4 linked regions of the Homo sapiens genome follow. The protein of the gene in region 3 purifies or fractionates together with the protein of the main gene of each other region. This does not show direct contact. Each region holds a gene or a part of one and is shown on either strand. Other genes may lie near its edges.

Evidence for each region.
Region 1: the proteins of ZBTB18 (region 3) and ZNF131 purify together in Homo sapiens (affinity purification with mass spectrometry; 2 studies listed by BioGRID and IntAct, with this or other methods). This does not show direct contact.
Region 2: the proteins of ZBTB18 (region 3) and CIC purify together in Homo sapiens (affinity purification with mass spectrometry; 2 studies listed by BioGRID and IntAct, with this or other methods). This does not show direct contact.
Region 4: the proteins of ZBTB18 (region 3) and RCBTB2 purify together in Homo sapiens (affinity purification with mass spectrometry; 2 studies listed by BioGRID and IntAct, with this or other methods). This does not show direct contact.

The regions. Positions count from the first base shown.
Region 1 is NC_000005.10:43,116,798-43,123,925, reverse strand, and holds the start of ZNF131 (zinc finger protein 131), read right to left. Parts: upstream 3,013-7,128; 5' UTR 2,803-3,012; exon of another isoform or gene 1,888-2,802; 5' UTR 1,873-1,887; coding exon 1,749-1,872; intron 718-1,748; coding exon 616-717; intron 1-615. UniProt on the Homo sapiens protein: Plays a role during development and organogenesis as well as in the function of the adult central nervous system. May be involved in transcriptional regulation as a repressor of ESR1/ER-alpha signaling.
Region 2 is NC_000019.10:42,286,231-42,293,255, reverse strand, and holds part of CIC (protein capicua homolog), read right to left. Parts: exon of another isoform or gene 6,920-7,025; intron 6,486-6,919; coding exon 6,336-6,485; intron 6,251-6,335; coding exon 6,016-6,250; intron 5,937-6,015; coding exon 5,807-5,936; intron 5,712-5,806; coding exon 5,529-5,711; intron 5,447-5,528; coding exon 5,281-5,446; intron 4,369-5,280; coding exon 4,166-4,368; intron 4,076-4,165; coding exon 3,850-4,075; intron 3,409-3,849; coding exon 3,305-3,408; intron 3,024-3,304; coding exon 1,790-3,023; intron 1,699-1,789; coding exon 1,511-1,698; intron 1,171-1,510; coding exon 1,049-1,170; intron 957-1,048; coding exon 790-956; intron 691-789; coding exon 397-690; intron 301-396; coding exon 1-300. UniProt on the Homo sapiens protein: Transcriptional repressor which plays a role in development of the central nervous system (CNS). In concert with ATXN1 and ATXN1L, involved in brain development.
Region 3 is NC_000001.11:244,047,217-244,054,282, reverse strand, and holds the start of ZBTB18 (zinc finger and BTB domain-containing protein 18), read right to left. Parts: upstream 3,001-7,066; 5' UTR 2,852-3,000; coding exon 2,839-2,851; intron 1,184-2,838; exon of another isoform or gene 1,083-1,183; intron 789-1,082; exon of another isoform or gene 496-788; coding exon 1-495.
Region 4 is NC_000013.11:48,488,438-48,495,080, forward strand, and holds the end of RCBTB2 (RCC1 and BTB domain-containing protein 2), read right to left. Parts: intron 1,815-6,643; coding exon 1,674-1,814; 3' UTR 526-1,673; downstream 1-525.

The sequences.
Region 1 (7,128 bases), on a different chromosome or scaffold from region 3:
GCCTGGCACTTGGCAGGTTATTATTAGAAAAATGTCTAGAAAGTACAAAAATCACTTTTTGCTTCAAGGTAACAGGTATTGATCCATCCCATTGTAGAGCCAGAATTTCCTCTAAATGCTACTTCAGTTCATTTTTCCTAGCTTTCTCCCTATTATGGCAGCCCACTTCACACTGCATGTCATCTGTACCTCTGCTAATACATCACTACTTCTGCTATAGAGTACAGTAAAAGCTTCTACTGTAACCTGCAGCATCTCCAGCAGTCTGAAACATAAGCCCACTGAACAAAGATAGTAATTCACGTTTAATACTTGTTTTCAAAAAACAATGACCACCAGTTTCCACAATGGAAAAGACCAACATCTACCATCTAAGTTTTTCCTGGCAGATCATTCAACCAAGCACTTCACTGAAAGTAAGACTTCTCAGGTATCAAAAGAACAATTTATCTACCTTTACCTACAGGAACTACTGATGCCTATTTCCTATGGTGTCTTGATAAACTGTCTAAAACTGCTTCACCAATTGTTTGCTAAGTATTGTATTTAAAACAAGCATTTAAATAAAATGGCTTCTTTGATTTATTAAATAAAAAAACAACAAGAATCATTTACCTTCTATCTCCACCAATGGTTCTTGGGTAAACTCCTGAAAGAATTTGTAGAAGAACTTACTACAAGCAGCCAAAACAGCCTTGTGAGCCTTAAAATGGTGTCCTAGGTAAAATAAGAAAAAAAAAGAAAATCATACACAAGCACGAAAATCAAATGTATAACTACAAAATAGACTTAAAAATCATATAAAGCAAAATAGGTCTTCCTTCATTACGTAACTACAGAAATTATTGAACTAAATGCAGAATATTCTTGGCAGCTATCTTGGCAAATGTTAATCTCAATTAGATATAAAGCTAAATCTTCACTTCAAACCCCTTTAGTTTTATAAAGCCTAATTTACAACACTAGGTAAGGAGCCTCTTGACACTCTGTTGTTTCCAATTAAGTAGTGAGAAGCATATCCAACTCAGTTGAAACTGCTAAATAAAAGGACAACCCAAAAGGTCACATATCATTTGGAAAGAGAGAAAAAAACCGTAAGCACAAAGCTGGATATGTCTGCTATGAAAAACATTTTAATATGCCTAATATTTGGAAGCTCCATCTATGGTAGACCCATAATTTTAAAAACAGGTTACCTTGAGAAACCTATTTTCGCTAAACAGAAAACATACCCACGCTGGATTTCCTTCCATTATAGAGGCAACTCCTAAGGCTGGTAAAGACCCCATTTTATTTTGGAGATTCTCAAAGGGGGTATGAGTGCTGCAATGGAATCTCTCATTCTCCCTTCAAGACCATTTGGGAAACTAGAAAAAAAATCAACACTTCCCAAATGACTCCTGTAAGGGACTTCTCAAAGCTTACCAACAAGAGGCTATCAACCAAACATTTTGAGACAATCTGTCCCCAACGACATCATCTTGCACTCAACAGGATGTAAGAAGTTAAAATGAGATGAACACCAGACTACGTGGAAGGCATGACTGACCAACCAGCCTTCTGCAGCACGCTGTGTGAGTGGACACTGACAAGTGCAATCTGGTCCCAGTGCACACACTCTGCAGACTTTGGTAGGGAGACCATAGAGGATGGGTTAAAAAAAAAAAAAAAAAAAAAAAGGCGGGTGTCCGAAGGACAGAAAAAAACTGAAGCCAAAAATTCGCTCCTCTGCCCACTGCCCTACCCACCGTCGACAATTAGGGTGATGTCAGTAAACCGGTCCTGCTCTCGCTGTTCATTCAATCGGTCGAGGATCATTTTATGATGTTCAGGGAACTCCTGAAGGCATTCCATCGTCTCTTCAGCCTCCATGGCCGTCGGGCTGCTCTACAAAAGAAGAGCATGATAATGTACACCCATGAGCTCGAGCCGAGGAACAAAACCCCTAAAGCATAAAACAACAACAAAAAAAACCAGCAACGTGAAAAGAAGGGGGGAGGGTGAAGCAAGAGGAGAGAAAGGCGAGGGAAGAAAGGCGAGCCGAGCGGCCCCGGAGCGTTGAGACCGGAGCCGCGGCCGCGGGACTCCGAGCCTGACCTAATTGGAGTCGGGAGACGCGAGCTAGAGCGGGGTGGGCACAGCGCCGGAGGTTCCGAGCGCCAGGGCGCGCAAGTCCAACAAGGGAGGGGACTCGACAGCCGTGGCGGTCCTCTAACGGCCCGCCAAGCCCTTCTGCCCGGCCGGGGCTCCCACCGCCCCGGGACCCGGTCCGGCCCGCGACCCACAACGACTCTCGGGTCGCCTCTCCCTCCCCCGCCCTCCCTCTTCTCCCCCGCCCCGACCGGGCCGGCACTCACTGAGGGAAGGAGGAGCGGCCCAGGCTTGCGCGTCACTTACGTCGACGCACACCGTCACCGCGTCGAGCTCCGGCTGACGCGGACGCCTTCCGGGCGCCGACCAGCAAGGGAACGGGCCACGCCCCTACCCACACCCCTCAGTGGATGGGCGGGGCCGAGCGCGGGGATTTGGCGCTCACGAAGGGCGAGGGCTTGCTCTCTGAGAAGAAACCGGGCAGCGGTGGGCTTGGGCTACTGCAGAGCCTGGCAGGGCCAGAAGCTGGGAACCTAAGTCATTGCCCTTCAACCTCTCACCCTCCCCAGCTTGACTCCAGGGGCGGACACTTCCCGACCCGAGCCCGGAATGAACTCGCCAACCGTCCTCACAGCCCAGCTACTGCGCGGCCCCTCCCGCCCCGTCCTGCCCCGCCCCCTTCCTTCCGAGACCTGGGTTGGCCCGCCTTACCTAGCTCGTGGGTCGCCCTCCTTCCTCTCCGTCCCTCAGAGCCTCTTGTTCCGTGCTTTCCCCTCCCAGGGCATAATGCGCCCCACGCCTTTCCTGACCCCTAACCCGTGGGTCGCCCTCCATTTTCTTCGTGAGAGCCGGGGCTCCCCTTCTGCTCGGGCCCCGCTGGCGCACGTGCGTTCGGTTGGGCACCCGGGCGGCCGCGGCCCCGGCAGCGGCAGCTACGGGCGCGAGCACGTTCGGGCCGCCCGGAATCTTCCTCCGCGAAGCGCGCCCTCCCCGCGCCCTGCCGCAGCACGTGCTTGCTGGGCTCAGGACCTGGAGCTGCTCAGAATTATTTACACCGGATCCCGTTAGTGCAGGCCTTCCCCACTCCTTTAAAGAGTCCAGGCCGGCGCGGTGGCTCATGCCTGTAATCCCAACACTTTGAGAGGCCTGGGCGGGTGGAGCACATGAGGTCAGGAGTTCGAAACCAGCCTGGGCAACATGGCGAAACCCCGTCTCTACTAAAAATACAAAAATTAGCCGGGAATGGTGGTGGGCGCCTGTAATCCCAGCTATTCGGGAGGCTGAGGCAGGAGAATAGCTTGAAGCGGGGAGGTGGAGGTTGTAGTGAGCTGAGGTAGTGCCACTGCATTCCAGCCTGGGCGACAGAGCGAGACAACGTCTCAAAAAAAAAAAAAAGTCCAGTGACCCACAGTCAGCTGCATGTGACTGCTTCCTTAATTCCTCCAAAGAAATATTATATATAAATACATTTTGAGGATAATTCTATAATTGAGATTTACTTATTTTTTTCTCTCAAAGAACTTGAGAATTGGGATTACGGAGGAACTCAAATAGCTATATGGTAATAATGTCATCATAACTTCAACAGATATGTATTGAGAATCCTAGTACTAGACACTGAGAAGTCCAGCTGTGAACAAGGTATATGTGGTTTCTGCCTTTCTGAATCTTAAGTCTAGTAGACTGCATAGATATTTTGAACAGTAATTGCCTAGGTGCTTGCTGATGAGTTTTGCAACACCTGAAGAACGAAGTAACTGGGTGTCAAGGAAAGCCAGTTGACCTGTAAGAAGAGATGTGGGCGGGCGCGGTGGCTCACGCTTGTAATCCCAGCACTTTGGGAGGCCGAGTTGGGGAGGAGGAGTTCAGCCCAGGAGTTTGAGGCCAGCCTGGGCACATAGCGAGACCCCATCTGTATTAAAACAAAAAATGTTTTTAAGTGATGTGAAGTCTAAGTGTTCTTAGCCAAAAGTATAGCACATGCAAAGGCACCAAGATTATAGCATTCAGGAAACTGAAACAATGTTGCTGGATAGACGCACAAGGGTGCCTTATAAAAAGTGTTGAAGATGTCAGATTTTCTTTTTGCAAGGGGAAGCCTTGCCGCATGGTGACATCCTAAGATGTACTTTTTAAAGAGATAATTCTAGCCCCAATATGGAGAACAGATTAAATGGGACAAGCTGCTAGGAATAGAGATCAACTGGGAGACTGTTAGTAATGTAGATGAAACCATGGGGGAAAATGGAATTAGAGAGCTGGTCAGAATCTAGAGATAGGCTGGGCGCAGTGGTTCAGGCCTGTAATCCCATCACTTTGGGAGGCCCAGTCGGGGAGGATCGCTGGAACCCAGGTGTTCAAGACCAGCCTGGGTGACATGGTGAAACATCGTCTCTACAAAATACAAAAAAATTAGTGATGGTGTGCACCTATTGTTTCAGCTACTTGGAAGACTGGGGTGGGAGGATCACTTGAGCTCAGGGAGGTTGAGGCTGCAGTGAGCTAAGATGGTGCCACTTCACTCCAGCCTGGGCAACAGAGTGAGACCCTGTCTCAAAAAAAAAAAAAAAAATCTAGAGATAGAACCAACATTGGCTGTAAAGCATGCCATAGATACTAAATAAATATTGCTGGATATATTGGTGACAAGGGAGAAAGAATAGTCAAAGATGGCTCCTGGATTTCTGGCTTGAGCCAGTAGATTGTTGGCACCATCTACCAAAATAGGAAATACAACTGGCGGAGCTGGATGGGGAGAGAGGATGGAACCAGAGGTGTTATTATAAGGAGATAATGTTAGAGGCCCTTGGATATATGGGCCTACATATAGTTTAGGGAAGAAGACTAACCGTAGAGATAGAGATTTGCAAGTTTACAGCATAAAAGGAATATTGAAGTGTTAAGAATAGATGGGATTGTTTAAAGAGAGTCTGCAGGAGTGATAGGCTAGCTGCTTGTAGATTGAATTGGTGTTTTAAAATATTATCATCAGCTGGTGGCTCATGCCTGTAATCCCAGCACTTTGGGAGGCCGAGGTGGGTGGATCATGAGGTCAGGAGTTTGAGACCAGCCTGACCAACACGGTGAAACCCTGTCTTTACTAAAAATACAAAAATTAGCCGGGCATGGTGGCATGCGCCTGTAATCCCAGCTACTCGGGAGGCTGAGGCAAGAGAATCGCTTGAACTCGGGAGGCGGAGGTTGCAGTGAGCTGGGACCGTGCCACTGCACTCCAGCCTGAGCAACAGAGCGAGAGTCTGTCTCAAAAAAAAAAAAAAAAAAAAATACGCTGGGCGCAGTGGCTCACGCCTGTAATCCCAGCACTTTGGGTGGCTGAGGCGGACAGATCACGAGGTCAGGAGATCGAGACCATCCTTGCTAACACGGTGAAACCCCGTCTCCACTAAAAATACAAAAAAATTAGCCGGGCATGGTGGCGGGCACCTGTGGTTCCAGCTACTGGGAAGGCTGAGGCAGAAGAATGGCGTGAGCCGAGATCGTGCCACTGCACTCCAGCCTGGGTGACAGAGCAAGACTCTGCCTCAAAAAAAAAATAAATATAAAATAACACATAAATTAAATTAAATATTATCATAATTGTTATTATTCACACAGCCTGCCACCATGCCTGGCTAATTTTTTGTATTTGTAGTAGAGATAGAGTTTTGCCATGTTGGCCAGCCTGGTCTCGAACTTCTGACCTCAGGTGATCGCCTGCCTCCGCCTCTCAAAGGGCTGGGATTACAGGCATGAGCCACCGTGCCTGGCCACGGTATTTCTTAAGATGAAGAAATTGGACACAAAAATAGGCTTTTTGGAAATTCCAGTATATAGGACCGCTCTTCTTTTACAGCAATTGAATTTAACCAAATGGAGAACCCTTTTCTACATAGGATTTGAGCTGTCCAGTTCCCTATAATCCCCACCAATTTCTAATGTTTTAGACTCAGCTATCATTCATTTTCCTTATTTGCTTAGTCCCTGAAAGCATTTGAGTTTGGGACTCCTAGTCCCAAATGGGAGAATGGAAGAGAGTGTAGGACTTTTTATCTAAAAAGTATCAATGTTTATGGATTGAGTAGAAAAGGAAGAAGCTGAAAGGACTGAGTATTGCAGCTGAAGAAAGATGGAAAACTGGAAGAGTATGACATCAATAAGGCCGTGAAAGGAGAGTGTTTCAAAAGAGAGGGTGTGGGCCAGGTGCAGTGGCTCATGCCCATAATCCCAACACTTTGGGAGGCCGAGGATCACCTGAGGTCAGGAGTTCGAGACCAGCCTGACCAACATGGAGAAACCCCGTCTCTATTAAAAATACAAAATTAGCCAGGTGTGGTGGCAGGCGCCTGTAATCCCAGTTACTCTGGAGGCTGAAGCAGGAGAATCGCTTGAAACCAGGAGGCGGAGGTTGCAGTGAGCCGAGATGGCGCCATTGCACTCCAGCCTGGACAACAAGAGCAGAATGCCATCTCAAGGAAAAAAAAAAAAAAAAAAAATGGTGTGGTTAGCAGTGCCAAATGCTGCCAAGTGGTCAAGTGGTCAAGCTAAAAAAAGATTGGAAATGGTCTGGTATATTTAGCATCATGAATGTCTTTGGCAGAAGACCTTAGCAAGAAAAGATTTAATGGAGTTCTGAGGGGAAGAGAGGGGAGGTGAGAAGTCTATATTCAGGTAGGTTAAGGAATAGCTAGGAAAATTGGGACAGCAGTTTTAGAACTTTCATTTAAAAATGAGAGAAGAGTTGAAAGGAGTACCTATAGAGTCTAGCCAGTTTTACTATTTTTGTGTGTTTTGATGGGAGAGACTTAGGCTATTTAAATGGTGAGGGGGAAGGATCCAGCAGAGGAAGAAAATAAAAGTACAAGAGGAAAAGGAGCTAATTGTACAAGAGAGGGATTAATGGATTGAAAGTTATCAGGAGTGTAGATTTGCTTTCAAGAAGTTAAGGAAATTCCTATCAAACTGAAGACCTCTATTTTCTTCCTGAAATAGATGGTCAGGTCATCTACTAAAAATTCAAGAATAGGAGAGAAAAAGTAT
Region 2 (7,025 bases), on a different chromosome or scaffold from region 3:
TCCGCTCCTCAGCAGGTGGGGGCAGTGGGGGGCTGCTCCGGGCCGTGGGAGTCCAGGTCTCTGGCAGGGGTGGAGGGGCTGGTGGTGTGGGCTGCCCCTCAAGCTCAGACTCTGGGGCAGTTGGCTCTCGGACTGGGCCAGGCTCCAGAGGCTGCCGGGGTGCAGGGCCAGGCCGCCCAGAGGCACCTGCCTCAAAGGACCCCACGGGAATGCTGGCGATGGCTGCCTTCACTTTCTGGGGGGCCTTCGGGCTGGGCCGCTGGGCCTTGGGGGCCACTAAGCTGTAGGTCATGGAACCTGCTAGTGGGGAGAAAATTGTTTGCTGAGCCAGGCCTGACTGGAGCCCATCCCCTGGGTCCCCCAACTCACTCTGCTCTGGGTTGATCTGACACCTACCTGTGGCGCTGGGGAAAGGGCTAGTCGGGGCTGGGGTGGCAGTGGCAGGGGCTGGCGGGCCCTTGGGCAGAATGGTGGCTGCAGGTGGGGTTGTGCTGGTGGCCACAGTGTAGACCAGGCTTGGGGGGGCCTGGGATGGCTGGGCCAGGGGTGCTGAGGAGGTGGGTGCAGGGCTGCCAGAGTAAAATGCTGTTATGACAGGACCTCCGGGGGCTGCACAGGCAGGCGGCAGCTGGGGACTGGGCACAGGTGACACGCCCACCTGACCGGGAGCCAGCAGTGGGGCTTGGCCTGCTGAAAGACAGAGAAGAAGAAGCAGGAGACCAAGTTAGGGCCCGGACTGCCTCAGCCCCACCCTGGGTCCCCAGCACTGCCTGCCAGGCCGCCCCTCACCTGAGAGCAGGGGCTGCACGAAGGCGGGGCCGCTGGGCCCCAGCGAGGTGAAGCCTAGAGCTACAGAGCTCGTGGGCCCGTACGAGGTGACTGTTCCAGCCTGGCTGGACGCAGGGCTGGTACCCAGGGGCAGCGCGTGCCCGCCCGCTGACTGCACATAGGTGATTCTGCCGCAGGAGAGGAAATGGGGAGGAGTGAGGTAAGCCGGCCCCGCCCCACCCCTTCCCTGGCCTCTGAGTATGGGCTCAGCTGCAATTACCTGGTGGAGGAGGGCAACAGGACCTTCTGAGGCTGAGAGGTGGGTCCAGGGAGTGTGGCTGGGCTCAGGGGCGGCACCAGGCCGCTGGGTGTGCTCACAGGCACCGGGGTCAGCTGGATGATCTGTGGAGAAGGGCACCCATAGGCCAGGGTGAGCTGTGGCCCCAGACTGGGGCAGGGGAAGACCAAGACCTCAAGTGGGACTCTAAGCAAAAGCAAGGAACACAGAACTTGGGGTGAGAACAGGATGGGCAAGATGACAGTGAGAGGTGGGGACACAGAGAAGGAGGAGGGTACAGACACTGAGGACTTGAGAGAGTCAGGATGCACAGAGACATCACGGAAGATGGCAAGACAGAGAACCAGATACATGGAGAAGGAGAAAAGACTGAAAAAAAAGACAAAGAAATGATGGGGTACAGGGGCCAACATCCAGCAGGTAGAGAGAAAGGCAGGCCCTCACCTTGCTGGGGGGCTGGGCACCATTCTGCACAGGTACTGAGAAGGGCGGGCTCACCAGTGGCAGTGGCTGGCCGGCCCCTCCACCCCGCACTGACATGCTAGGGGCGGCCAGAGGCACTAGGACCTTCCCAGGCAGCAGCTGGGCTGAGCCACCCGGGGGCGGGGCCTGCACGGGAGAAACTGACTGGGCTGGAAGTTAAGAGGCAAGAAAGGAAAAGGTTACAAGGGAGCCAAACAGGACTATGGCCCCTCCCCTAGTGCTGCCCGGCCCAGGTCTCACCTTTGGGGGGTGGGGCGGAGGGTACAGACTGCAGGATGGGGATGCCAGGAGTGGGTGCAGTGGCAGCCAGGACTTTGCCGTTGGTGGAAGTGCCCGGTGGGAGGGTGAAACGGATGCTGGTGGTGGGTGCAGGGCCGCTGGGAGCCGCTGCCTTGGTCCCAGGGGCTGGTGCTGGGGCAGGTGCCACCTGAAGCTGCTGGGGCAGCGTGGGCAGGATGTACTGTACCTGGGTGATTCCCCCAGCCTTGCCCAGGGCACCTGGTTGCAGGATGCCCAGGGGTACTGGCCCATTGGGGCCACTCCCAGCACCTGCTCCTGAGCCCGCAGTGGTCCCACCACCAGGGGCCCCCTGGGCAATGAACTGGACAGCAGGGGGCGCAGGGGCCCCATACCCCGGGGTGCCCACCAGTAGGTTAGTGACAGTGGCAGGCGCCTTCCCCACAGTGCCCAGCAGGGGTCCAGCCACCAAGTGTGGGGCTGGTGAGGTGGCTGCTGCCGACTTCTTGTCCGAATACACTAAGCTGACACCCAGCGGGGAGCCCCCAGGCACCCGAGACCCAGTGCCCATTTCAGTCCTGGCACCTGCTGTGTCATTTGGAGACGCCTCAGCCCGGCCAGAGGTGGGGAAGGGCTTAGAGGCGATGGGCACAGGAGTGCTGCTGACAGGCCGCACCACATTGGTGACCATGGTGGCGGCAGGACGGGACAGGGGAGCTGCTGGGGCCCCATAGGCCAGTGATGGGGCGGGGGCGGAGGGCACTCTGGCTCCGCCGCCCTCTTGCTCCTCCTTGTTTGGGGGCAGCACCAGTGTCTGCAGGATGTTTCCTCCTCCGCTGGGAGGGGCCGCGATGACTGAGGGGCCTGGTGGCTCCAGGCCACCCACACTTTCGGGTCTCTTGCGCCGGAAGGTGGCAGGATCCATTGGGAGGAACCGGGTTGCCTTGGAAGGTGTCGCTGGACCCCCAGCCCCAGGGGGTGGGGGCCGTAGGGGGCCCGCTGTGCTGCCCTGACCAGACTCCTGGGCCTTGAAGGTTCCTGAGCCCAGTGAGAAGGAGGTGGCTGCCGAGGCTGAGGAGGAAGCAGGCGAGGACGCAGAGGAGGATGGGGCGGAACCATAGCCTTTGCCAAAGGCTACAGGAGGATCCGGGGGCCCTGGGGGCTCAGGGTCCAGTGGGGGGCGGCAGTGGGTAAAGGAGGAACGGATCACAGGTGAAAACACCTTCCGACCAAAGCCCTGCATGAAAGGAAGGGAGACACCCCAGGTCAGGACACTCCGACACCTCGATAGCAGCCCCCTAGCCATGCCCATCCAGCCTGTCAGCCAGGCCAGCCTAGGGCTGCACCCCTGCCAGCTGAAGGCCTCAATTCATCCTGACTATGACCCAACTCCCCACGGGGCAAGCAGCTTGCCCTCTCTGGACCTTAATCTCCCCCTCTCTCAAGCCCGGGAGAAACAGACATTCCCATGGCTTAGGAGGGAGTGTGATGGGACAGCACCGTGACCCAAGCCCTCACCTTGTTGCCCTCTGGGTCCTCCCCAGAGCTGTCCCCACTCTCGCTGTCGGTCACCCGCTCCTTGCACTTGAGATCAATGTCAGTGGTGCCGAAGCCATCGTCAGCTGAGGGAGTGGAGGGAACAGTATGGGGAGGGGGCTAGATGCAGGGGGACCCAGGAGAAACAGTCTGGAGCCTGGATCTCAGCTCTGCTCCAAACCGGCAGGGAGTGCTGTCCAGGAAGGCTACTCCTCAGCCCAGGGCTGTGCCCACATGCCCAGTGCCCACTGCCCAGTGCAGGAGCCTATGAGCCTGCAGGACAGAGCCCCTAACACTGCACCTGAAGATCTGGTCATGCCCCCTGTCCTCCAGATTTCCTGCAGGGCTGGGGGCTTCCTGAGGGCAGGGCTGGATTTACTCGGCAGGGCCTGAACTGGCCACATGCAACCATAAACCAAGTGGAAAAGAAAACAAAGGGGCCTAGGGGCCTGGATCCAAGTTCTGCCCACCCTCTGAGCCTTGGCCTGCTGGGTCCTGGGCAAGATTCTGGGCCCTGCAATGCTCACCAATGACATCATCATCCCCTTCCTCCTCACAGATGACCATGCGCTCCTCATCACTCGTCATGTCCTCACTGGCCGCACGCTGAGAACGAGAAGCTCGGGTGGGCAGCAGCGGGGGCCGCCCAGTGGCCGCCAAGGCACCTCCCTCACCAGGGGCTGCAAAGGGTCCTGGAGCTCCATACTGGGTAGAAGGCTTTGGGCCAGAGTACGATGCAGGGCCAGACACCATCTGCAGGATAGGTGGCAGAGAGGGTTCAGCGGGGCTGCTGCCCTGGACAGGTTCCCTGCCCACCCCCACTAGGGGGCCTGCACCCTAGACCTGCGTCAGTTCCTGTAGCGCCTGACTGTCTACTTCTCCGCCGTCCAGGCTGTGTACCCCGCTGTGGGAGAAAGCTCGGGGCCGGGCTGAGCCAGGTCCCCCAACTGTGTGTAGCCGTTCTGCCCCACAGGAGCTGCTCCCCGGAGCCTTGGTGTCTGAGCTCAGGAGTGTCTGGGCTGCAACGGACAGGAGCTCAGAGGACACTGTAAAGTAGAGAGTGGCGCTATGACAGTCAGTAAGCCTGTCACCAGCACCTAGACTGGCCCAACAACCCATAGATATTTCTAGGTACTAGGCAGAAGCAGGCTGGAATTTCTGGGCCACTTGGTGAAAAAAAAAAACCACCACCCACCACCAGTCCAGCATCTCATTCCTGCTGATTCCTGCCCTCTGGGGTTGCAGCAGGCCCATTCCCTGGGGGGCAGCCCTCCTGAAAGTAAGGAGGCCTGGAGAGAGGTTCATGTGGTGCTGGCTAGCCAACCGCTGGCCTGAGCCTCGGTTCCCTCATCTCAAAGAGGAAGTAACTAGTGTCCCCACTCTCATAGAAGTGCATATCCATAGCAACTATCCATCTAACCTCACAGAACTGCCATACCCATAGGCTCACTCCAAAAATGTGCCCCAGAACACCGCCAGGCACACCAGACAACCTCAATAAGTGGAAGCAGCCCATCAGGGGTGTTTGCGAGCTGCAGTGGCCCCAACTATGGTGCTGGGGGCCCGCCGAACTGGGGTTTACATTCTGGCTCTGTCATTTGCTTGTTTATGACTTTAAGCAAGTGATTTTGCCTCTCTGAACCTCAGTTTCTTCTTCTAGAAATAGAATGGGGTTTTGCAGACTACAGCTTATATTCCCTGTAGTGCCAGGCACATAGTAAACACTCGTTAAACAACAGTTGATAACGAGATTGCTGTTTGGGAATCTTAGTATCTGTGTGGATCTCCCTGGCTCCGTCACATGAATCAACTGCCGGTTCCTTTACGGATAAGGGTCGCCAAATTAAAGCGATAGAGCAGAGAGGAGCTGCTGGGGCAGGGGAGGAGCAAGCAAGGGGGTAGCTGGTGGCTCTCGGGGAGGGAGGTGGCAGGGTGGGAGAGCCAAGGGGCTGACTAACCCCCAGGGGCAGCAGCAGTGCCCGTCTCCGACATGCTCCGCTCCCGCGTCTCCTTGTGCCCTCCTGCCAGCCCCAGGCTCGTGGGCTTGGCCTCTGAGCTGGACTTCTTTCGGTCCTTGTTGCACCACTTCCAATCTGGGTGGGCCTTGAAGTGGGCCTCCTTCACCTGGCAGGAGAGGGCAGGGCAACCCTTCACTCACCCACCCCACCAGAAGAAGCTGGGAGGAGCCAAGAGGCAACAGCGTTACCTGGAAGGCCAGGTCGTGGTACTTCTGCTTCTCCTTGGGCCCCAGGGCATACCACCACTCGCCCAGGATCTTGCTGACGGTCCGGTTGTCCTGGTTGGGATGACGCTGGTGGACCAGGGCCCGGTGCCGCTTGCTGAAGATCATGAAGGCATTCATGGGCCGCCGGATGTGGTCCTTCTCCCGCTGCATTAAACACAGCCCAGAGCGGGACAGTTAGGACCTGGCAGACAGGTGTGGGTGGCCACGGGGTGAGCACAGGACAGGCAGGGATAAAGTACCTTGTTGGGGCTGCGTCCATCCTTCTCAGAAGATGAGTCCCGTTCCTTGGGTAGGGCACTGAGGGACTGGGTCCGACGTTTTCCGGGCGGTAGAGGCAACTGGATCTCAGGAGACATGATGGAGAGGAAGCTGCGGCGGGGCAGCAGGGACAGTGAGGGCCATGTCTCTGGCCATCCCACCCCCAAGTCCCAGGCCTCAGGGAACTCACGCATCATCATGGTCACTCTCTGTCTCACTGTCCAGCCGGGGCTCTCCTGGGGGGCCGGAGGCCTCCTCCTCCGTGGTGGGAGGCGGACCCTTACCAGATTCCACCACCCCCAAAGGGTGTGGGGGTCCGGGTCCTGGGCTCTCAGGGCATGTGGCTCCAGGGGGCCGCTCAGGGTCAGCACTCCCTGTCCCACCTGGTGGCCGTTCATGAGCAACAGCTGCCGACTCAGCAGGTTCTGGGGACACAGAGGTAGATCAGAGGGCTCCTAGGCCACCTGGACCCCACACCCTTGCCTCCCCCCAGTCCCCACCAGCCCTCACCTTTGCTCTGGTTGGAGGCCACTGGGTGGCTGGCAGGTTGCTGGGCCTCGCTCGGCTGCACGGAGGGGTCAGGCTGGCTGGGTGCCAGGAAGGGGACTAAGGAGTGCCAAGGGAACACAGCCACAGAGCGAGGTTCCACATTCGTCCACACTGTGGAAAGGAGCCAGGTGAGCTGTGCAGCAGGAGAGCCTGGCCCCAACCCCAACTCAAGCTCTTCCCCACCCTAGATGAGGTAGCCCCACCCCTTTTGTCTACCCCCCACCCCCAACACCAGAGCCTCTTGGACTCGTCCATGCAACGTCACTCAGGAAAAACTCCTCCCTGAAAGGTTTCTAGATTTATAAAAAAGAAAACAGAAGCAGGGAAGGGAAATAGTACTCACGCCCCACTCCTCCCCCCACCAATCTCCACCAGCCCTGCCACCAGGGACCAGGCCAGAGGAACGATTTGCTCCTGCCACAAACCAGGTCATGCTTGGCTGCCATCCCACACTCCCAAGGCCCCAGACCTCTACGGGCTGGGACCCCCACCCCCGTCATGCCACATTCCCAGCAGCCCAGTCGCCGCCCAACACAGCGTCTCACCTTGGCCTCATGCTCTCTTTCCCTTTCCTGAGGCATACGGCCCCACGTCCCCTCCCCTCCAACTCTCCGTTCACTATGCACAGGCTGTGGGGTCTCTTACAACTGT
Region 3 (7,066 bases):
CATCTTCATCACTGGGCAAATCGCCTGCTATGTGGCTGCTGCCATCGGAGAGACTCTCGACTTTGTCCGAACAACTTGAAGCATCTTCTTCCTTTTTGGTGCTGTCTGCCTCCGTGGTGGCTTTCTCTTTCAGCTTCTTTTTGCAGACTTTGACAATGTCATACATGTGGAGATAACTGGCAGCTGCTAGCACGTCTTCAATGGGCAAGTCTTTGAACTGGAGTTTCCCTTCATACATGAATTCAAGCAGGAGAGCGAAAGCGGGGGCTGTAACAATGTCGCTGTTCAGATGAACAATGTCTCTTTTGTCCAGCTGGTCCTTGTAAAAGAGGTGGAAATACATGCTGCATGAAGCCAGTACAGCTCGGTGCGCTCGGAACTGGGCATCTCCCACCAGAACAGTGCAGTCACAAAGAAAACCCTGGTGTCTCTGCTCGCTCAGACACTGTAGCAAATGTCTACTATGGTCTGGAAACTCCATACTGTCTTCATAACCTGGGGAGAGAGGAATTTCTCATTAGAGCCTGGTCAGGAACAACTTTTCAGCGCTCCAGTCCCCATATAAAAAAATTAATTCCGCTTTGGCCGCCGTGGTACATGTCCCTGAATTTTAATCAGGCTTATGACCCAAGCACCACCAAATCACACGGACAAGACCTAAATGCCAGAAGGAAAATGCACACTTTCTGAACTTCCTCACCCCCGCCAAAGAGCTTCCGACGCATCTCCATCTTCCTTGAACCCAAGTTCTAAAAGCCTTCCTTTAACTACAGTCTCTCACTAAGAATAAGAATTTAGATCTCTTCCAGAAGAAATTTAATTAACTCTACTTATCAAATTATGTCCCACAAAACCTACAAAATAGCTTTAATTTCAAAGGGAACAACTCATATAATAAACAAAGAAAAGTCCCAAACATATCCTGGAACATACAAGAAAACTTGTTCAACCATCCTTTTTATTACTTTTGCTACCTGACTGTGCTTAGAAAGCACAGTTTAAACACACACACACACATTTGGCTGAATCAAGAAAAAAAAATGAAATTGCATAATTAGTCCAGAAATTAGCAAACAACTTACTTTTAAAGTCAGGGTGTTACAACAAAAGCCCTGTGTATAAAAACAGATGTTAATGCCTTCAGATTTGCAGGTATAGCACACATGTACGAGATCAGAAGGAGCTGCACCAACAGATGGAAAAGATCATCTTTACTATGAACAAATCCAAAGATTTTTCAAAACGAACTGAGAAAAAAGTAGTTACATTTCTTTGTAGAAACTGTACTTTCAGAATATTAGGAACCAGAGGGGCTTTACTGAACTCCGAAAATTCTCATCTAAACTTTGATCCGTTGCAAGGCAAAATGAGTTTCATATTGAAATTAATTCAAACTTTTAAAAATAAAGGCATACAGCGCTTAAATAAAACTCAAAAGCTTTACAGGTTCAACGTTTTTTTTTAAGCCTTTTTAGAAAAAGAGAACCTTTTTTTTTTTCCTGGTTCTGCCTTACCTCAGCCAACAGAAAATACTTTGTTTCAATATAATTTGATATATTTCTGTTTTCCCACTAGCTTCTATTCTTGCAAATATTCATCATTGCCCTTGTTTTGTGATGAGGGAAAGTGAAATGGAGGGAGGAGAAAGGCAAAGATGTACAAAGGGTCAGAATTCAACTGCAGTGGGTAAACTCCTGAAAAATAAAGAAGACCCGACTTCCCCTTTCCTGTGACCAGAAGCAAGCCTCCACACCACCCATCTCAGCAAGTGCATTTTGGGAATAGATACACTTAATTTAATATTCAGAAATTACTTCCTTTCTTCTTGTTCTTCTACACTTTGCCCAAGACAGACTAAAACTTTATCCTAACCCCAGACACATTCTGCAAGATGCCACTGCTAGAATAAACTAAGATTTACAATACAATCACTTTAAGTGCCCCACAGCTAACATCAATCCTAATCCTTGAGAAGGCTAAAAATAAAGATTGGAGGGCAGCTCACAAGGTAGCCGTGATCAAATTAGGAGGCTGAGAGGACAGAGAGGGACGAAGAAGGAAGCTTATAAACATCTGATCCAGCTGACTGTGGCCATATGGCAGCTGCTGCCCAGATAAAGAGATTAAGAATAGAGGAGTGCGATTACAGCTGTCTGGCCAATTCAGGCAGCTCAAATCTACAAGTTCTAAATTAGTCGCTAACACAAAAACTCCTGCAAATAATTATTGTTATGCTGAAATAAAAGATCTCTTAAATATATATTTGAAAGAGAAATGAGGAAACCAGTCAAACTATTCTCCTGGGGACAAAAGTTTGGTTTTTTTTTCTTCTTCTTAAAAACCTGCAGTTTCAACAGCACTACAGCTGTATGTTTCAGTAGTGCTGCTCAATGTTTTGAAGAATAAAGTTTCACAGAGGAATTAATTATACAACAATCTAGCTGCTTAACTAGAATAATCTTCTCATATAAGTTTGAATGCTGGATTCCAGTTTACTATTTCCCCACCACCACCACCCCAATCAAATCTAAATAGCAGTGAACAACAAAAAAGCATTTTAATCCAACGTGATTTCCAAAAGCAGCATTTTAAAGCCTTTCTTAACATTTCAAAACTTGAAATATTTGTGTATTAAAGTTATTTACTCGCTCAAGTAAAAGGGATAAAAAATTAAAACTAAACAAGCTCAAGACTTTCAACTCCAGTAAGATGTTCATTTAATACTCAATTTCATATATTATTCCTAAACTGGGTTAGAAAAGTAATGTGATTTTTAAAATTAAATAAACAAAACACCAAAACAGAAATATGCTCAATCTAATCTCTTGCTACTCCTACCTTTAGGACACATAAACCTGATTAAGTCCTTTCCTCTGAGTCCTGCTGGCTCCAGGTCTGTTACATCGGTGGAAAAAAAGCAGACTAAGAGAGACAGATGCAAAGTGGAGATGATGTTAGAGAGGAATGAGATACCTTCTCCACCACAGATCCGCACACACTAACTCCCTGTCTGTGTGTTAGAATAAAAGGCTGAGGGATGGCAGGCTGTCAGCTGCTCTGACATCATGTTCAGATGGAAATGCTACCTCCAGCTGTGCTCCTTTTAATGCCATATGCTACTCCTCTACACTCCTGCCACCAGCTTTTTCTTAGGAGAACTTTTCTCTTCTGTTAGTATAAACAAAATACTTCAAAGTCTTCCTTTTTTTCCAAACTTTCTAACAGAAGAAATTGAAAAACTCAGCATATGGAGTTCTACTGTATTTATGGAATAGCAACACTTCTGTCTTAAGTTGGTGGACTGGCTTACATACTGACAGCACACTCAAGCCACGGTGCTATTCAGGAAATCCAGATTCACTTTTATTCAACTCCAACGTTTAGTTTCTAAAGCAGTTTAGGGATATTTTTAAACCAACCCATTTGACATCTCCAGTCCCATTTCAACATTATTACCGCACTTTTTTATTTTTTTCTGCTGAGATAATGGTATACATGTCTCAAATGTTGGCAGACTTGTTCAGAACTATTACTTCAGACTGGTTCACCTTATTATTTCACTCTTATGTAATTACTTATCTACAACTACCTTCTCAGAAAAATTTCTTACACTGCCACAGTCAATGCAAATTTCAATTCTCGGTACCAACAAGCTGAAACTGCACTTTCTGAAATCCTGGAAAGTACTTCAGTTCAACGAGACCAATTAATAAACTGATACAACCTGCTCCAGTCACTTAAAATGAATGCTGCACCTGCATATCTGATCTTTCTGCTCAGAAAAAGCAGAACCTTGCCTTCCCCTTGATCTGTGTCCCTTAACAATCTTTTTTTTCTTTGGGGGGGGGTCACTCTAATGTTTATGATCACAAGAAAATCTTTGTGTGGGGGGAAGCCAGGTCTAGTAAGTTTGAGAACTTTTCAGCCAGTTTGTGGGTCTTTTCTAATAGCTGATGAAACTGTAACGCGACCCGGGCTGGGCTGACCGGTACCGGGCAGGGTGCTGCGACATCTCTGAATGTCAAATACATCTCCTCAGACTCTTGGGAGGGCGAGGGGTAGAAAAGGAACTGGGGCCTGAGGCGCCAGCGTCCCAGCCCTGGTGATAACCACTTCGTTCCCATTAGAAAGCCGTGGCGGAGAGTTAAAGAGTAACAAAACCCGACGACTCCGTCCTGTCCTTCTCGCTTTCCCAAAGTCACAAACCTAACTTTCTCCAACTTCGCGGTGAGTGACATAATTATGAACACTTAGTCCAGGAGACATCCTCGGGAGATCAATTTCTTCCCAGCCACACCACCTATTCTCCACAAATGCCCTCGACCCATTCCAATATATCAGACATTAATCACCCCATTTACCCAGTGGGGTGGGGGGTGAGTGACAGTTTAATGAGTCCCGGGCACCGCAATGGGCCAGCAACTCCCACTCCACAAATCAACCCCTTCACGTCTCGCTACCGCGGATCCATAGAGGTTTTGTGAGGTTGGGGTTTTGTTTTTCAGAGAGGTGGGGGCGGGGGTGCCGAGTGGGGAAGCAATGCAAATCTTTACGTAGTTCGCCGTGCATAAAACACACGGGGAAAGAGGAAGGTTAAAACCACAGGGAAGGAGGTGGAGGGCGCAGAGCCGGTGCAGCAGGAAAACACCTTAAACAACAGAGGAGAAAACAGACCCGGGTCACGGCAACAACAAAAGAAAAGTCGTAAGAAGCAGCCAGCGGGAGGAGAGTGGTTGCTACCGCTTCCCCGATGCCGCGACGCGCGAGCCCCCGGGGCCTCCGGGCAACTGCACCAGCCCGGGAGGGCCCCCTCCCCCGCCGGCCCCCTCCCCCGGGCGCCACTGCAGCTGCACCGGTCCCCGGAGCCGCGGCCGTCCCGGGCGCCACTGCAGCTGCGGCTGCTCCCAAGCCCCCTCCCCCAGCCCGCCGCCCTCCGCACCCGAGAGGCGCCACCGCAGCTGCACCGGCCGGGAGCCCGCCCCGCGCCGCAGCTGCACCGGCCCGCGGGGGCGCGGCGCGGAGCCGGGAACCCGCACCCCGCCCGACCCCGCAGCTGCAGCGGCCCCGTCCCCGCGCCCGGGCCTCCCGCAGCTGCGCCGCCCCCCGCCGCCCCAACAGCTCCAACCACACAAACTAACTCCACTCGCGGGGGCGCCCCCGACCCGGCCCGCCCTCCGCCCGCGCCGCCCAGCCGGCCGGGGCCGCACAGCTGGCGCCCCCCGCCCGCCGGGGTGCCGGGGCGCGGAGGGGGCGCCAGGTCAGGGGCCAGGGGCCGGCGCCGGGACTCACACGGAGCGGCCCTAAGTCACCGCGTCCCCGCCGCCGCCGCGTCCTCCGCCTCCTCCTCCTCCTCCTCCCGGCCGCCGCCGCCGCCGCCGGACTTGGTGGGCTTCCTCCGGCTCTTGCCCCCCTCCCTCCCGGCCCCCCCACCCCCCAATCCCGGCTCCGTCGCCCGCTCCCCCCCGCCCCTCCCTCCCGCCCACCCCCGCTGGCAGCCGGAGGAGCGCGGCGGAGCGAAGAGGGCCCCACTCTCAACGGCTCCCCATGGCAGCAGCCCAGCGGCGGCCGCAGCCTGCCAGACACAGCGAGGGAGCGAGCGAGGGAGCGAGCGCGGAGCCGCCGGGCCGGGTGGGGGGGCGGGGGCGGGGGGGGGGCGGGCGCGGGGGAGGGGGAGGGGAGGGGGCGGGAGGACGCACCACGCACGCACGCGGCGGCGCCGGCCAGATGTTCCCCCCACCCTCAGTCCGCCCCTCTCCTTCCCCTGCCTCCCTCCCTCCGGGCGTTGGGCTTCTGCGATTGACCGAAAGCGGCTGGACCGGCGCTCCCCGCCCGCCCCCAGCCCTCAGACTCCTCCAATGGGAAGGCGGCTCTTCGGGAAGGCGGAGGGGGTGGTGGGCAGTCGTCGGACTGACAAGGGGGCCCAGCCAATGGGGGTGGCGAGCCGTAGCTGCCCTCCCGCGCGTTCCAATCGCAGGCAGCAACTGTTGGGGTGGGCGGGGCTCGGGCGGGCGGGGATCCGGAGCGAAGCGGCGCGGGGCGGAGTCCTCGGGCGCAGCGGCGGTGGCAGCAGCGGCGCCCCTCTGGGTGACTTGGCCGTGAGAAAGTGAAAGGAGCCCGCAGGCGGCGGCGACAGCTGCGCTGGGAGGGGCTTGTTTCCAGGCTCAGAGGCCCCGCGCACTCTGCGGGTGCGGAGCGAGCTTTTCGGTGTGCACTGTGACAACCACAAACACACTTTTGAACGTAGTGGGGCTTGGCTGCTGCGAGTTACGCAGGTATCCTGGAGAGGCAGGGCACCCGGGGACACGGATGACTCGAGGCCGACTTCGGGTGGCTCTCTCTGCTCCTTCCTGTGGGGGTGAAGACGCCCGGGTCCTCGCCGGCCCGTGCGCAGGGGAGCGGGACCGAGGAGCGCTCTCGCTCCGTCCTGCGGCGTCCCGCGCCCAGGTGCACATCGGGGAGCTGGGGACGCAGGCGACTCAGGCAGTTTCTGGGAGTCGTTCTTACGTCATCATGTCACGGGCAGAACAGGGCAGAGCGCCCGCCTTTCTCGCAAAACCCTCCTGTCCCTTGTGTACTTACACTGTTACAAGTAAAGACTTCCCCAAGTGACCAAATTTTAGAGCATTACAGTAAAATTGGTACTTGCAGATGCCTCAGCTTGATTCCTTAATTGATACGTATCTAGCCACAACTTTAAACTACCGAGGGACGATGTAAGACTGCTGTGTCGCTTTTCTTTCCTTCAAATAAACTTTTACTCGGTACCTGTTCTTGGCAATTAGACTGCGTTAATCACAGCCACAAAGACGTGGAAATGTCTGCCGTCAAGAAATTGGAAATCGTATCGAGGCAAGAATTACAAGTAAAAAGTTGAATAACAAGTGGTGGGGGAGGGGGAATGGCTGAAGAAAATAAAATAGAAAAAAAAAAACAACTTCATAGTGAGGAAGTCAGTCCACTAGTCATTGTCTAATGAAATGTGTTTATTCTTTGCTAACAGAACCCAGACTGGCAAGCCTGTTGCTAACCAACCTGCCAGGAGACCTTTCAACTGGGCAAAATGTGC
Region 4 (6,643 bases), on a different chromosome or scaffold from region 3:
GGGCAATGAAACCACTCTCTATGATACAATAATGATGGACACAGGTCATTATACATTTGTCCAAACTCACAGAATGTGCACCACCAACAATGGACCCTAATGTAAACTATGGACCGTGGGTGATAATGATGTGTCCAAGCAGGTTCATCAGGTATAACAAATGCACCACTCTGGTGGGGGGTGTTGACAGCAGGGAAGGCTGCGCATGTGTAGGGCATGAGGCATAAGGGAAAACTGTGTTTTCTTCACAGTTTTGCTGTGAACCTAAAACTGCTCTACAAAAATAGTCTTCAAAAAAGTCACCTCACCAATAAAGAGCAGACCAAGACAATAATATGAATGATAATTAGGTTGTTTATAAGCTATTTGTGGTCTAGGGTGGGCTTTCCTATGAGACTTTATCCGAGTAACTGCTTGATAAGAGCATAATATATCCAATTTATTTATGTACATCTAAGAGACATGAGGTTGACATTTTATAATTTTGCTGCTGTTTTGGGATTAAAAAAAACCCCAACACATTTGTTCTGTTATCTGCAAATAAGCACTTTATTACCAAATAGTTCAGCATCAGAACAAGAATTCTAATTCCAAAAGGGTTTCCTTTACATTACATGACATTGTGAGATACACATTAGAAGAATCTGAGACTATGTTCCATTTCAGTTTCTCTTTTGCAATTAGGTAATTTGTTTTGATCTAAAAAGTACAAATTTATCTCATTCTTGTTAATGCTGTCCATGAAATGTAAGTATCAGTTCCTTCTCAGCTAGTGCTTTATAGTTATACTGGTGCCAGGTTAAGAGACCTATTTTATAGTGAGTGACATGAAAGTCAACTACAAGAAAAGCACATTGTCATTTTCATTTACAGAGGCAAGTCCCTCTTAACACAAAGAAAAGCAAAGGACCTTATGTGATTATGTAAGGCAGATCAGCCCAGGAATTTCATTCAAAGATAATACTTCATACTCCATAATCCCATGTGAGAAATTAATGAATGACTCCAAGTAAAAAGAAAATTAAAATTAGCCCTTGGGCCTTGACAATTTAATTGCCAGGGCCTTTTGTCAATTCTAAACAATGTTCTAAATTAGCCACAATTTCTCAGAATGATATACCAGAAGAATATGAACCTCAATAATTACAGGCTGTTTTAAGTTTATTTTGTGAAAGTTATTCCTTCTCCCAGTATTCCATGACTAAAGCTGTTCTCAGGACATACTGAAGATTTATAATAAATTGAGTGCCTATTATACACAAGGCACTGTGCTGAGTGCTGAAAATGTGGTAAGGACAGACAGCACTCCTTGTCAAGCTATCTATGTGGTATCAGCCAGCTGAATAATGGAACATTTGGGCCAGAATAGCATATACTGAGACCAGGGTACCAAAGGTGTCCAATTTAAGTGACTCAAAAAGAGGAAATGGTAAATAAGATATTTCAATTTTTTTTCCTTGACCTTAGTCACATCTGATCAGAACATTCAATGCTTTCTACATAAACTCTGGGTTTAGGCAGACAAAGACCACTCACCACCATCCTTCTTCTGACAGTTACAAGTACTCAGCCAAACATAGCTCATCATACATACTATTAATTAAAGAGAAGTGATTCATCTCTGGCTTTTGCAGGGGAAATGGAAAGGCTCAAAAACTTTCCTGCAGATGGGATCAATTTTTAAAGGCTCCAACTCTGCTTGCTTTGCTGATAAAGTTCTTCAGGAGATCATGGTCCATTTCTGCAAAACCTGATGTTTGTGTTACTACAGTCAGATGGTTTATGCAAAACCTGAAGCAGAATTCTTCTAAATCCTAGGAACAACAACAAAGATGGTTTAATAAATTCATATTTACTAATTCAATGCAACATAGCATGAAAATCGCTAAAACAAGTTAGGCAAAGAAAAAGGATTTAATAGGCAAGTGGAGGAAATGATGGCATGGTAATACCTAAAGAATAGTCATAAAAAGTATAACAAGTATGAATCATCTATGCTTGTAAAAATTTAAGTAGCACAGAGTAACATTCAAGTTCCTCCGCACTAACCTAGGTAAAGAATCTAACTTTTTCTTCCCAGAGATAGGCATGTGAGTGTGTGAATTCCTTGGTACCTTTGTCTAGTGACAGTATTTGTAACTGTTGATTTCACTTTCAATAATTGTTAAAAGCCCTATACTCCTCTTTTATATTTATATCAGCGTCTTTAAGTATGTCTGCCTATAAAGAGTTGATGGAAGAAAAAGGTAAGCCATAAAAAGCAGTAATGCCAAGAAATTGCTGCTCTGAAGTCATTAACAGGCCACCGCTTTTTCTCTTTATGAGACGACACAGGATGGGATGGATGGATTTGATCACACTACATATGCCTTCAATAATCTCAACTGGGAAAATGCTTTAAAGAAATCATGACTTCCAAGTCTCTGGTAAGAGAGACCCAACAGATTGGTGTTTTCTGGCTTACTGTAATGCACTCTGGGCCAAAGAATAATGCTGTAATAATTCTCTTGATTAGAACTATAACTTGAAAATCAGAATGAGGCTGACCAGATGCTTTTTGGCCCTGGAGAAGTGAGGGCAGGGTGCTGAGACCTCCAATATGCCTCAAACCCTAGGCTACTTGGCCTAGGACAAGATGCTGCTAGGTGGTGGTCAATTTTTAAAAGTTTCCTCTCCAAGCTACTGTAGGTAATTTATAAAAAATAAAAGCCCCAAATACTTTCTAAGCAATTACATATGAACATTACACACGATAGTCTTTTCTTCTTTAGACATAAATTATAGCAAATGCTGAAGATGGAAAAAATAAAAAAAATAGCAATGCTGATAGCCTTGCCAATGTACATATAAACCTACGGTACATTTTCTTTTAAGAAAAGAAAGAAACTATACTAGGAAAATGTTTATTTCATGCCTGAAGATAACTGGGCAGGCTGTTGGTACCACACCAGCAATATGATGTGTCTCTGTCCCAGGTAAGCCCTCAGTGATAAACAGGGAAAATTCACACACCCACTTGTCATCACAGCATACTATACATAAAAATGTGCTTCAATGATACATGCTGAATATCTCAGAGTCCATTTAAAATTATGTGCTGTTGCTTAAATTTTTAGAAATGACATTTTTGCCTACAGCACACAAAAGTGAAACCAGATAGAGATGCATCATCTCTTTGGCTGAAGTCTACAGAGAGGAATGGAGGAATTCATACCTACACCACACACATTAGAGTGTGTCTGGAGTTAGGTGGCTGGGCAGTTTGATGCCTCACAGATCTGGACAGCATCAGGAAAATTGCTAATTAATGGGAGAATGAAAGGACCCTAAAAAGTTATCACTTGGATCCATGCTCCTTTACTTTATTCTAGAGTGGGATCTTCCCCTAAATACTAAATTAAGGACAGGACTTGGAAAGAGTTCCTGTGATTCTAAGAATTCAATAAATTGGCATAGGGTGGTGGTACTGGTTATAGGGGAATTCTGTCCATAGAAAACAAGGCCCCCATTATTTTTCAGTTAAAGAATTGTAGTCTATTTTGAATGCTACCACTCTGTATGGCTTCATGTTCAAAATGGGGCCCTCTGTTCTGTCCTGCAGTCCTACCACATTCTCCTAGTTTGCTCATTCTCCTACAGGACTCTCATACTTCTCCCCATAAGCCTGACATCTCCCCTCTCATCCTCATCCTCAGCTGACATGACTTCCTATTTCACTGAGAACCAGAATCACTTGAAAAGAACCTCCACAAGCTCTCCCCACCACGTCTCCTTGCCTATTACAGAGAGGCCTGTGGATGCAATCTTCTCTGGATCAAAGGTCCAAGACCCTATAGAAAGCAGAGCCCTTGCTCTGTCACTAGATCCCACTGCTCCACCTACTAAGGGGCCCTGCTCTACCAACTGTCCCCTGCATCACTGGCTTGTTCCCCTTCACTGAGTCATTTGCATCATTAGACAAGCTTCCATTTCCCACATCTTAAAAAAGTAAAGATGTTTTACCTCAAATGCCCCAAAGCTCTTCCTTTTTATCTTTATAATAAAATTACCATGAAAAGCTGCCTCTATTCCCCATCTTCAGTTCCTCTACTTCCACGCTCCGATCAGACTTCCCGCCTCACTGCGCTAAAACTGCTTGCCAAGGCCCCTCCGGCGTTCTCATCGCCAAACCCACTCGTCAGTTCTCAGTCCTCGTGCAGACGTGCCAGCAGCATCTGGTGTGGTTCGGACTTCTTCCTTCCTGTTTCGCTTTCTTTCCCAGCCTGCAGGAAACGGTCTGCTGGTTTCTCTCTTCCGTTACTGCTCACTCCTCTTCAGTCTCCTTTGCTGGTGTCTCCTTATCTCCTTAACCTCTAAGCACAGAGTGCTCAGGACTTAATCTTCAAACCTGTCTCACGTCACTGCCTCATAGCTTTGACTTCAGCACATTTCTCTCTGACTTCCAGGCTTGCTTATCCAATTTGCTTATTAGACATTTCCATTTGGATGTCTAATAGACATCACATACTTCTCATATTCAAAACCAAATTTCTGATATTTCCCCCAAAATGTTGCTCCTATCTTCTATATCTCAATAGATGCCACTTTCATCCTTACAGCTGCTGAGGGACAGAACCTCCTCAGTCGTCTTTTTTTTCCTCACATCTAATCCATCCGCACATCCTGTTGGCTCTACTTTCAAAATGTATTCAAAATCTTAACCACTTTTTACCATCCCCACAGGTGATAACTTGGACCAATCCACCATCATCACTTACTGGATTATACAGCCTCCTAAGTACCCTCCTTCACACACACACACACACACACACACACACACACACTCTTCTCTCTCTCACCCTCTCTCTCTCTCCACACACACACACACACACACACACACTCTCTCTCTCTCTCTCTCTCTCTCTTCTCTTCTCTCTCTCACCCTCTCTCTCTCTCCCTACCTCCCTCCCTCCCTCCTCAACACAGCAGCCAGGAGGCAGGAGGATTACTTCAAATGCCCATCATATCTGCTCCTCTCCAAACCCTCTGATGGCCACTCACCTTGGAACTCTGATTCCTGAAACTTGCCTATGGACTCTGCAGGCCCTGCCTCCTCCCACACACGCCACTGTGCACCTCCACCGCACCATCTCCCTGCCTCATCAGCTACTTCCCTCCCCACTGTGCTCCCTCCACACCGGGCTTGCTTTTCCCAGAACACACCACCCACACCTCCTTCAGGTCTCTGCTTGAGTCACCTGCTCACTGATGTCTTGCCTCCCTGACCATTCTATTTAAAATTTCAACTTTCATCTCAGGATGGCATTCCCTAGGCTGTCTTCCCTGTCTTACTTCTTTCCATATCACTTGTCACCATCTGACATACTATATATCCTATTCATTTATTGATCACCTATCTCCCCTCACCAGAAATTCCCATGAGAGCAGAGATTTTGGATTGTTTTGTTCATTTGCAGTACCCCAGTGCGTAGGGCAGTGCCAGGCATGTAGCAGGCACTCAGTGAATATTTGTTGAATCCATGCATAAATACTCCTGATTTCAAAATACTGAGGACAATGGAGAATTGTAGTTAAACATGCGGTTTTAAAATGTGCCCAATCTTGGACTGTATCCCAGTTTTGCAGTTTACTAGTTTACTCAGATTACTTAATCTTTCCAAGCTTCAGTTTTCTCATTTATAAACTGGATCTAATATAATAATGCCTATGTCATATAAGGTTGTTTTGAGGAGTAAATGAAACATGAACTGTGCTTAGAATAATCCCTGGCTCATATTAATTATGTACTAAGTGACAGTCCAGCATGAGGGATAATAATTTGCTGAAAGAGCCCATTTCTTGCTTATTTGAGCCAGGCAAATCAAATACAGCACTGTTCTTTATTTACGAAAGCTTGTATTTTACATTAAGTACATATACAGTCTATTTTACTTATAGTCTATTATACTAATTTAGGGTACAGCAATTAGCTGGACAGGCTGTAGTACAACAGTGCATCTCTATAGGCAAAACTGAACATCCATGAAAGGGGTATTTAGTAGGTACCTACTCTGTGTCAGACACCGTCCTAGGCGCTGGGGATATGGTTGTGAGCAAAACAAAGTCCCTGCCATGCCTCAAAGAGCTTACTTTCTAGAAAACAGAGAGCTGGAAGGTAGCCAGACAAATAATTCACATAAATAGAGAATATAAAAAAGTATTAAAAATGAAGCCTGATTCAGATGCAAACACCACGTGCCACCATCTTGACATCTGAGATGGCCCTCCATCACCGTGGCTCATCACTGTGATGCTCAAGAATGGACTAGGAAAAGTGCATGGATTTTGTCTGACCATGAAACATTCTGTGTTGTAAGTGCCCAATATGTTATTGCCTTGATATAAAACATTCACTGTGCTGTTAAATGTCATTGTTTTGAGGTAGTACTTTTTTTTTAATGTTAAGTGAAAAAAAATCTAGGTTTCAAGTATTTACAAATATATAATGTGACATAAAACAAAAACTCAGAAGCTGTTATATGAAAGTGCTAATGTTCTCTGGTTGATGAGTCATTACCTTCCTCACTTTTTGTCTTTTACAAATTTTCTTTAATAAGCATAGTATTATTTATGTAAACAGAAAAAAAGTTATAACCTTTCATCT